Linked DNA regions of Homo sapiens. The protein of the gene in region 2 purifies or fractionates together with the protein of the main gene of each other region. This does not show direct contact. Each region holds a gene or a part of one and is shown on either strand. Other genes may lie near its edges. The genes, in order: VRK3, TXNDC5 and XPO5.

Region 1 (3,650 bases), on a different chromosome or scaffold from region 2:
TGCTTCAGCTTCCACCATCACATCTGCGTTGCAGCCAGCTGGAACAGAAGAGGAAAGGTAGAGCCTGTCCCAGCCCACTAAGGGCATAACCTGGAAGTTGCCCACATTTCTTCTGCTCACATCCTCATTGGCCAGAACTTGGTCATGTGGTCAGTCCTCACTGCAAAGGAAGCTGGGAAACGTAGTTTTTATGCTGAAGGCTACATTCTAGGGAACACTGTGGCTCTTACCATAAGAGAAAGAAAAGGAACCTGGGTACAGCAAGGTAGCTCGCAGTCTCTGATGTGTGTTTGTGTGCAGTACCTGAGGAATTTGGCTCCGATGTGGGGACTTGATGAGGAGCCTGGTCATTGAGGGAGTAACAAATTGCCAGTGGGGACTGGGGGCCCTTATCTGAGACTTCAGTGTGACAGCCTTCTGCCCCTCCTGTCCCCCACCAGGATGCCAAGGATGGGCGCTTGTTCAATGAGCAGAACTTCTTCCAGCGGGCCGCCAAGCCTCTGCAAGGTACCTGACAGGGAACTGGGCAAGGAGGGGAGAGTGAGGGGGGCGCCAACTTGGTCACAGCACTTGACTTCTACCTGCAGGCATGAGAAGGGTGGGCTTAGATTAAAGGCCCAGGTTTGCTCCCATCTGTGTCCATAACCTGACTCCTGTGACCCCTCAGGCCTCAGTGTGTGTTGTGACTGGCTCACACCAGCTCTTGGAAGCCAAGTATTAAATTTTCAGGCTGGGCGTGGGTTGACGCCTATACTCCCAGCACTTTGGGAGGCTGAGGTGGGCAGATCACTTGAGGCCAGGAGTTTGAGACCATCCTGGGCAATGTGGCAAAACCTTATCTCTACTGAAAATACAAAAATTAGCCGGGTGTAATGGCATGCACCTGTGATCCCAGCTACTCAAGAGGCTGAGCTGAGAGAATTGCTTGAGCCCGGGAGACAGAGATTGCAGTGAGCTGTGATTGTGCCACTGCACTCCAGCCTGAGCAACAGAGCCAGACCCTGTCTCCAAAAAAAATAAAAATAAAAATAAATTTTTAGGAAGATGGCAAGCTGGTTGTTACAGACAGCCAGTACTAGCAATTAAATTATATAGGCCAGGCGTGGTGGCTCATGCCTGTAGTCTTAGCACTTTGGCAGGCTGAGGTGGGTAGATCACCTGAGGTCAGGAGTTCAAGAGTAGCCTGGCCAACATGGTGAAACCCCATCTCTACTAAAAATACAAAAATTAGCCAGGCGTGGTGGCGTGTGCCTGTAATCTCAGCTACATGGGAGGCTGAGGTGGGAGAATCACTCGAACCTGGAAGGTGGAGGTTGCAGTGAGCCGAGATCATGCCACTGCACTCCAGTCTGGGCGATAGAGTGAGACTTAGTCTCAAAAAATATATAAAATAAGTTACATAATTTTACAAATAAATTATATTCAAAACAAAGGTAATGAACCCTCAGAAATTCATCACTTCCTAATTATTTCCTACATGTCCTGTGATCTCTGCCAGTGAGGTTGTGTGCACTATTGTCTCTGTGTGGTGAGAATGCTGCATGATGGCCTCCCCTGTATATCTCTCCCACCCCACCTCCAGTCATGTCATGTTGGTAGCTTGGAGTTGGCCATAGCAGGAGTATTTATTTACACTGCAGAAATTAGCAAATGCAGTCGGGCGCGGTGGCTCATGCCTGTAATTCCCACACTTTTGGAGGCGGAGGCCGGTGGATCACCTGAGGTCAGGAGTTCGAGACCAGCCTGGCCAACATGGCAAAACCCATCTCTATTGAAAATACAAAAAAAAAAGGCCGGGCGTGGTGGCTGATGCCTGTAATCTCAGCACTTTGGGAGGCCGAGGCGGGCGGATCATGAGGTCAGGAGATTGAGACCATCCTGGCCAACATGGTGAAACTCCATCTCTACTAAAAATACAAAAATTAGTTGGATGTGGTGGCACGTGCCTGTGATCCCAGCTACTCGGGAGGCTGAGGCAGGAGAATCACTTGAACCTGGGAGGTGGAGGTTGCAGTGAGCCGAGATCACGCCACTGCTCTCCAGCCTGGTGACAGACGAAGACTCCATCTCAAAAAAAATAAAAAATAAAAAAAAATTAGCTGGGCCTGGTGGCAGAAGCCTGCAATCCCAGCTACATGGAAGGCTGAGGCAGGAGAATTGCTTAAAATCAGGAAGCGGAGGTTGCAGTGAGCCAAGATCGCGCCATTGTATTCCATCCAGGGCGACAGAGCAAAACTTCGTCTCAAAAAAAAAGAAAAAAGAAATTAGCAAATGCTACCCATCAGGACTGCCTTCCCTGGATAGCCAGCTGTTAAACTAGCATCAGCTCGCCATTGGTTCTGGTCCACCCCACTGAGATCTGGAAGACAGGCAGAGGCACATTCCGGTGATGCCATGGCTAGGTTAGACACGTGTTGATCTTGTTAGCTCTATGTGTGAATTCGGAAGTAACCCTGTCATTATCCCATCTCTGCACTCCAGACTTGTATATGCTTCCTCCAGAGCCACCATGATCACCCCATCACCTGCAGACCTGGATCACAGACATTCATGGTCACCCATGCCTGCCCTGTCACCAGCCCCTTCCCACCATCACCCACCCACAATGTTGTCACCTCCAACAAGGAGACTTGGAGGCGGTCTGGGCACTCTGTGCTTCTTCTCTGAGAACTAGCTCTTACTGCCATGGGCTTGGGACTGGGTGGGTTCTAACCTCAAGCCCCTGCTTTCCGCAGTCAACAAGTGGAAGAAGCTGTACTCGACCCCACTGCTGGCCATCCCTACCTGCATGGGTTTCGGTGTTCACCAGGACAAATACAGGTGAGCTGCTCTGCTCACTGCTTGCCTCACCGGCCTCTTTCCTCTTCTTCCTGTTGTGACTCCAGGCATGGCTGGGACCCCGAAGCCGTGGGCCAGGTCTTTGCTTCCTGCCTTCTCGTAGTTTTGACCTAGTTTGCTGCCCAGCCAGTCAGAACCTTTGATCTCACCTGGGACCAGGACCTTGCAGCCCACGCAACAGTCCATCCTTGGCGGCCGGTACTCCTCTCTCCCCTGTTCATCTCCCACCTCCTGGGGTGCTTGTGTCTTCCAGGTTCTTGGTGTTACCCAGCCTGGGGAGGAGCCTTCAGTCGGCCCTGGATGTCAGCCCAAAGCATGTGCTGTCAGAGAGGTCTGTGCTGCAGGTGGCCTGCCGGCTGGTGCGTACCCAGAAGTTGCTCAGCTGCCGCGTCAGGGAGGGCACATCACATCCTAGTTTAGCAGGCACTTTAGTCATTGACACTTCCGGCCCCCACCCCCCTCCGCTGCACACTGGGGGCTGGCTCACTGACTGCCATGGCAGGCGGTTAGAGCCGAGATGATGGGTGGTCAGTCCTGTGGAGGGCCCTTGGGGGGCCATGAGCATTGGAGGAAGGAGCCCCGGCCTCAAACTGAAGGCTTAGATTAGGCTTCCTGGTGGAGGGTGTTTCTAAGCCAAGACTCTCAGGATGAGTGGAAATAGCAAAGTGCTGGGTGGAAGAGGAAGAGGATAGATGAGGAGAGGATGGTCCGGCCAAGGATACAGCTGGGGCAAGGCTTGTGTGGAAGGGAGAGCATATGGCATTTGTTCATTAGTTCATTCATTCATCCCCATTAAATATTCATCAGGCACT
Region 2 (3,650 bases):
GAGAATGTGTTTGCAAGAGAAAAATGACGGTCCCGCCATGCTAGATGTTCACCGGTACATTTTACACAGTGTGCATGGACTGTCATCAGTTTTGGCTTGCTTTTGCTGGTGACTTATTCGCAAACACCCTTCCTATAGTTCCTTCCCGTGTGACTCCCACAGGGCTGTTCCTGTTGGAAAGAAAGTATAGAGTCTGACAGACGATGATACTTACTTCCTTGACAGTTAAGAATTTTTTTGGTTATAAGAAATAGAAATTGAAATGTTCTCAATTCTAGAAATAGAATTGTTCTCTTATTAAACAGAAAGAAAGGACTATTTAAAAGGCTGTGGAGGAACCTCTGAGAGCCAGCTCCAGGGGCCTGGGGTCTGTTTCTCCTGCACCTCCCTTGAGATGACGGCTTTCCAGGCCTGTATCTCTGTTTGCACAGAAGGGCCCACCACTGACTGGCCCTGCTTGGCTGGAATGTTCGTTCCAGGAATAGTCACTGTGGCCAGGGAAACAGGAGCTTATAGCAAGACACATGCCCATTCACACCATGTGCCAAGTGTTGGAGGGAAAAGCAGTTCTTCAAAAAAGAGAAGAAGCTGTTTCTGAAGGAGGTGGAGGGATTGCCACGGTCACTTCCTTGCTGTTTGTTTCAATTGAGGAATGAAGTCAATTCTATACAATTTATTGCTTAATTGAATAATATAGGGGTCCATCAATAAAGCAAAAAATTGGAGCTTATATTCAAACCTGGGAGGCAGAAAAGTGGAGGGATCTCCAGGCTTGAACCTAGAAGTCGTAGTCAAATCCCAGCTCTACCATTTACTTACCACCCAGCTCTGACCTCATCACTTAACCTGTAAGTAAGGTGATCCCCCAAACATTGTTACAGGACTTACATGGAATGTGTGCAGACACCAATCTGAGCACACCCAATACATGTTAGGGTTTTCCCTACCATTTGGAAATGTGGGCGTTTCCACAAAGGACCCTGGAATTCTTGGTCTTTGGTGACTGCTTGCTAATGTAAGTGCCATAATTTGGGTTTACTTTAAATCAGATCAATGGAGATAAAATTGCTTACTATCTGTATCTACGTAAAAGCATTAACTATTCTATGCTTTATAGTATTGCATTGAAAGTATGGATCAAGAGCATCCCAAAGAAGCAGGTAGTGAGCAGAGATGAGGGCGAGGAGGTGAATGCTTACCTGTTGAGAAACTGTTGCTTTCAAAGTTCAGGGGCAGCAGGGGTGAGCTGGCTGTGGTGTCTTTCCTCTTAACCTGCTGACCATCTGTGGCCTGAGACTATGTGCATCACACACCATGCCACAGGGAAGGTGACACAGGACCTGTAATGGAGCTGAGAGTGGTATGTGTTATGGGGCTTCAGAGAAGGAAGTGAAGGCTTCCACCTCAGCCTGGCCATAACAGCTGTCAGCTGCAATATCAGCTACTCCATAGTTGGTATTCACCAAAAACCATCACAAATTTAAAAAGTCACAAATGTAAAAAGTCACAAATTTAAAAAGGCCCATGTTGGATCATGTGTTTAGATTTTTAATGAGAAGAGCTGGTCTCCCCAAGTAAACCATGGCTGGTTTTGTGTTATTAAAAAGAACAAAAATGAACGTACACCACACTGAACACAGTTTGGGAAGGAACCTCTGTGACCATCACTGCCCTGCAGAAGCTCCAAGAACAGATTATTTTCCCCCCGAGAATGCAGGAGGTGGAATGTGCTGTGTGCAATGTGGTCGCACTGGGGCATCTGTAGATTGACTTGAGCGAGCTTTGACTCCTCTAAGACAAGTGCCCATCCCATAGAGTGGTTGTGAGGCCCGAGGCAGGTGACGACTGTACCTGCCTGAGTCCAGGCATGTGTCAGGACATGAGCTTTCACGTTATTCTTTCCTGGCAAGTGTAACTGGAGTAAAGGATTGGAGGGGCAGGGAGTTTGGGCTCCCACGCTCCCTAGAGATGGCTGGCTGTGCTCAGGAAAATGTTTTGAGGTCTTCCTGTTGGGCCAGTCATGAATCATTACAGCAGGGCAGGACTGACGGGGGGAACTACCTGTGTTAGTTTCCTAGGCTGCTGTAACAAAGTTCCACAAACCGGGTGGCCAGAAACAATAGAAATGTATTCTCTGCAGTCCTGGAGGCCAGAGGTCCTAAATCAAGGAGCCAGCAGGGTCATGCTCCCTCTGAAACCTGTAGGGGAATCCTCCCTTGCCTCGTCCTGGCTCCTGTTGGTTTCCTGGTCATCTTTGGCGTTCCTTGGCTTGTAGATGCATCACTGCCGTCCTCTGTCCTCACATGCCCTTCTCTCTCTGTGTGTGTGTGTCTCTCTGTGTCCAAACCCTTCTTACAAGGACACCAGTCATGCTAGATTGGGGCCCATCCTAGTGACCTCATTTTAACTTGAATATCTCTGTAAAGACCTTATTCTAAATAAGGTCACCTTCTGAGATTGATGGTTATGACTTACACAGATCTGTCTTGCAGGACACAGTTCAACTGATAACACTGTCTACGGTAGTAGAACTTTCATCATGCTGTTTGCCAAGGCAGTACCTACATGGGGATTTTCTCCCTGCAGTCTCCTTGAAAAAGGAGACTCAAATGCCCATGTGGAGGCTTGGTAATAGCGGAAATCTGGGGCAATACTTTGTTTGGGCTTGTACCCTGTGGCCCAGTCTCCATCACCTCCCTCACCCCTGTCGACAGTGAGAATTGAAGTCAGATGTCCCAAACTCACTGCAAGGTCTGGACCAGAAGTGTCCGCTCTGTCCCTGGGCTCTGTGAACTTACCGAGGAAGAATCTCAGACTTCCTGGGCAGGTTAGAACGATTATCAGTCCAACAACAAGAAGATGGTTTTTTTTAAATTATTTGTTTTGCAAATGAATAGCAAATTACAAAAAAATCATAGGCTAGGTCTTACTGTATTTTACTTTTAGCAAAGACACAAGTGTGACCGTCCCTGGTCCTTTCTGATGTCTTGAGGATCCACCCATTTCCCTTCCTGAAGAGCGTTAGCGGGAGGCAGAGCCGTGCAGGAAGCAGTTTCTGTTTCCAGGTGCGGAACACACCTTGTGGGAGCCTGGGGAGGTGCCAGGCTAGGTGAGGGCAATCATCTTTGATACCGCAGATGTTGCAGTTGCTTATCATGTTGAACTTCGTGACGTAGCCGGTGTACTGGCCAAATCTAGTTAAGTTTTGGCTGTTTTTTGTGGTTATGAGAGTCTGAGCTGCTGAGGAAGCTGGGTGTATATTCTGCACTGGAGACACATTAGGGACCCTACCTATGCCCCATCATACCATCTTAGGTTCTGGGTAAGGCCAGTATGCTGATACTAATTTCAAAGCCTAATCTAGCCATGTGACTTCATTTTAAGGAGAATTAGCCATTTTTTTTTGGACTGAATGTGTGTGTACCCCAGCATTCATAGGGGAAATCCTAATCCCCAATGCTGGCAATAGGAGGTGGGGCCTTTGAGAGGGAGCAGGTTATTAGGGTGGAGCTCTCATGAATAGGGTTGCATACCTTATGAAAGAGGCCCCAGAGAGTTCTGTTTCCCCTTTTGCCATGTGAGGGCACAGCAAGAAGACACCATCTGTGAACCAGAAAGCCCTCACCAGACACTGACTCTGCTGGCACCTT
Region 3 (3,650 bases), about 36 Mb from region 2:
TGTGAATAGTCCTATATCATTTTAGGTCAGGTTTTGCCACCAAATAAGTTAAAAAGATTTTAAAAAATTTTTAATTTAGCAAAGCTATTGGAATTCTGCTGAATTACAGACCTAACTAAATGACTTGGAGAAATGAGACACAAAGTGATGTTTTTATTACAGCCTTTTTAATTTTGTTGGTGATATAAGGAATTCTCATCTTACAGGACTGCTGATGGAGGAGGTTTGGTAGAAAAACACTACGTCTTTCTGAAGAGGCTCTGTCAGGTGTTGTGTGCGCTGGGCAATCAGCTGTGTGCATTGCTGGTGAGCTAGTGTTTGCTTTCTGGAGAGCTTCAAGCCCATTTGGGAAGAGCATTTAGAAACTTATGTTTCAATGAGGGGTTGCAAATGTCATTGATTTTAGCCTGATGGGGCAGTGCCATACAAGTTATTGCATGATTCTATAGATTAAATTATCTTAATAGAATAGTGTTTGAGTGATCTAAATTTCTTTTAACAATAAAATAGTTATACCAACGTCAGATATCCACGTCTATTATTCCATAAAGTCAACGTTGGTTTCTTGTGAATTTTGGTACTTACAGAACCTCAATCTGCTGAGTGCTTTATGCTTTTACATTCTGTTAGCCCACGAAACATGGACTTGAATAAAGAACTCTTTTCCCAATCTAAGGGATGTATTATTGGAGCACAAAAGAAAACTTGAGTCTGATTGACCTGGAAAACCTGCCATTAGAGAAATATTTAATACTCAGTCTTATAAGTTGGAAGATAGGACATTGGAACAGACATTTGCAATTGATGTTATATCTTTTTGTGGTGGTTTAAATGGTTAGAGAGGATAGTTTCAGAGATAAGCAACCATTGAGGGGGCCAGGTGCAATGGCTCATGCCTGTAATCCCAGCATTTTGGGAGGGTGAGGTGGGCAGATCACCTGAGGTCAAGAGTTTGAGACTAGCCTGGCCAACATGGTGAAACCCTGTCTCTACTAAAAATACAAAAATTAGCCAGGCGTGGTGGTGCATGCCTGTTATCCCAGCTACTCGAGAGGCTGAGGCAGGAGAATTGCTTGAACCCTGGAGGTAGAGGTTGCAGTGAGCCGAGATCGTGCCACTGCTCTCCAGCCTGAGCAACAGAGTGAGACTCCATCTAAAAGAAAAAAAAAAGAAAAGAAACTATTGAAGGGATTAGGTAATAGGTTGGGACACAGAGATGTGAATAGGTAAGGTCTGAGGAAGTAATACAGATTTTTTTTCTTTCTGTAATTTCTGAAATGAGTGTTTTTTATTTTACTGTTTGACCACAGAATGGGTTTTAATGATGATGATTGAGTAGGCAAAGTAATGATGATGATTGAGTAGGCAAAGTAACCTATATTTTAGCCCTTGAAGTGATGCCTTTCTTTAGCCAAAAGGAAATACAAAGTCCTTTTGAAACAACATTTTTTGAGGGTTTAATTTATCTGTTTTTATTACTTCCCTGCTTTTTCCTCTCCTGCTTTTCTCGATCAACACCGTTAATATAGTGGTCTTCTCCTACAGGGTGCAGATTCTGATGTAGAAACACCATCAAACTTTGGAAAATACCTGGAATCTTTTCTTGCTTTCACAACCCATCCAAGTCAGGTAAACTTTATACAGGTAACTTCTCAAAAGTTTAGTTAGGTGAACCAATGTCAAGCACTGTGTCCTGAAATATTATTGTAGATCATGTATAAAATGTGACTCTTCAGGCCTTGGGGAATGACCGTAGTGTCATTTCATTAAGAGAATTATTGGCTCTTCTTCCTGAGCCAAACAGTGCACTTGTCTAGGTCAGCAGCTTTTCCCTTTAGGTAATATTCTGATTGTACTCAGTCACATGTGAGGTGTGTCCCAGGTGGTTTAGTACTAAAGTTATAAAGATTTTTGAAACAAAAGTCTGATTAATTGTATTATAAAATTAATTTCACTCTGTTCAAAATTGTCCTTCTAATATCACTCTGAGATTCCAGTATCCTTTTTTGCAAAGAAGAGAAAGTAGTAAAATTCAGCTCACATTCCAGGTAATTTCCTTGATCCACAGCCTGTCTTACTAACATGTGGTCCATAGTGGGTGGTCATTACTGATAAATTGCAGTAGAGACAGCTTCAAAGTATTGTACAGATTTATTTCTATGAAAAAATGTAGTTGATAACTGCTAAGTAATAATCTGGGTTATATAGAATCCAAATCCTTTGACGTTTTCTTTTTTTTTTCTCTTTAGTTTCTACGCTCTTCAACTCAGATGACTTGGGGAGCCCTCTTCAGGCATGAAATCCTGTCCCGTGATCCTTTGCTATTAGCAATAATACCAAAATATCTTCGTGCTTCCATGACTAACTTGGTCAAGGTATATAATGGGAATCTAAACATGTGGAATGTAGGTGAATACACATAATAAGACTTTGAGGCTGGGTGCGGTGGCTCACGCCTATAATCCCAGCTCTATGGAAGGCTGAGGCGGGAGGATCGCTTGAGCCCAGGAGTTGGAGACCAGCCTGTGCGACATGGCAAAACCTCGTCTCTACTAAAAATACAAAAAAATTAGCAGGGCATGTTGGTATGCACCTGTAGACCCAGCTACTGGGGAGGCTTAAGGTGGGAGGATCACCTGAGCTTGGGAAGTTGAAGCTGCATTGAGCTGAGATCGCAGCACTGCACTCCAGCCTAGGCAATGAGAGTGAGACCCTGTCTCGGGGGAAACATAAAAAAGACTGATTGGCATTATTAACAGCCCTTCTTCATCACTAAGATTCCTTTACTGGACATATTTTCTTATTCCTTAGGAAGAAATCAGTCCTTACTGGTTATTATAACTGCTCTTCCATATGAGAGTACTTAATATATCATAAGTATTGGGCTAGGTGCTAGGGCAAGAGCAGTGACCATACAATGTAATAATTGCTATTCAGGGGTTAAAAGCAGAATGCTTTGGAAGTACATAGGAGGGTTGAGTCAGGAAGATTCCAAGAGGAGGCAATATCTAAGCATTGCTTCTGGAGGCCAAGTGAGAGTTACAAAGGGAAATGAGGGGAGTGAGAGTGGAAGCAAAGATTGCTCACTACCTCAGTAGAGAGTTGCTCATGAATTCCCTGCTAAGAGCTCTTGCAGTTGACAGATTGTTAATCTCAATTTGTAACATCAGAGAATGGTGCACATTCAAGGGTCCCCTTATTTTCTTAAGGAATTTGCCTAGCACATAGCACACACTGGTGTTCTGTGTTTTTTTTTGAGACGGAGTCTCACCCTGTCACCGAGGCTGGAGTGCAGTGGCACGATCTTGGCTCACTGCAACCTCTGCCTCCTGGGTTCAAGCAATTCTCCTGCCTCAGCCTCCCAAGTAGCTGGGACTACAGGTGCCCACCACCACACTTGGCTAATTTTTTGTATTTTAGTAGAGACAGGGTTTTACTGTTTTTCCCAGGCTGGTCTCAAACTCCTGAGCTCAGGCAATCCACCCGCCTCGGCCTCCCAAAGTGCTGGGATTACAGGCGTGAGCCACCGCACCCGGCCACACTGTGTTCTTATTTTCTGCCATGGTCTTCAATTCTTTTCTGAATGAAACATACAAAGTTCTACAAGTTTATTCTCAGTGTTCAGTATTTGAGGCAAGTAGCTCTCAGTT

The links.
Region 1: the proteins of TXNDC5 (region 2) and VRK3 purify together in Homo sapiens (affinity purification with mass spectrometry; 2 studies listed by BioGRID and IntAct, with this or other methods). This does not show direct contact.
Region 3: the proteins of TXNDC5 (region 2) and XPO5 fractionate together in Homo sapiens (co-fractionation; one large-scale study listed by BioGRID). This does not show direct contact.

The regions. Positions count from the first base shown.
Region 1 is NC_000019.10:49,994,361-49,998,010, reverse strand, and holds part of VRK3 (serine/threonine-protein kinase VRK3), read left to right. Parts: intron 1-440; coding exon 441-507; intron 508-2,735; coding exon 2,736-2,820; intron 2,821-3,091; coding exon 3,092-3,197; intron 3,198-3,650. UniProt on the Homo sapiens protein: Plays a role in the regulation of the cell cycle by phosphorylating the nuclear envelope protein barrier-to-autointegration factor/BAF that is required for disassembly and reassembly, respectively, of the nuclear envelope during mitosis.
Region 2 is NC_000006.12:7,900,710-7,904,359, reverse strand, and holds part of TXNDC5 (thioredoxin domain-containing protein 5 isoform 1 precursor), read left to right. Parts: intron 1-3,650. UniProt on the Homo sapiens protein: Protein disulfide isomerase of the endoplasmic reticulum lumen involved in the formation of disulfide bonds in proteins. Can reduce insulin disulfide bonds.
Region 3 is NC_000006.12:43,558,903-43,562,552, reverse strand, and holds part of XPO5 (exportin-5), read left to right. Parts: intron 1-145; exon of another isoform or gene 146-206; coding exon 207-306; exon of another isoform or gene 307-1,153; intron 1,154-1,545; coding exon 1,546-1,629; intron 1,630-2,249; coding exon 2,250-2,375; intron 2,376-3,650. UniProt on the Homo sapiens protein: Mediates the nuclear export of proteins bearing a double-stranded RNA binding domain (dsRBD) and double-stranded RNAs (cargos). XPO5 in the nucleus binds cooperatively to the RNA and to the GTPase Ran in its active GTP-bound form.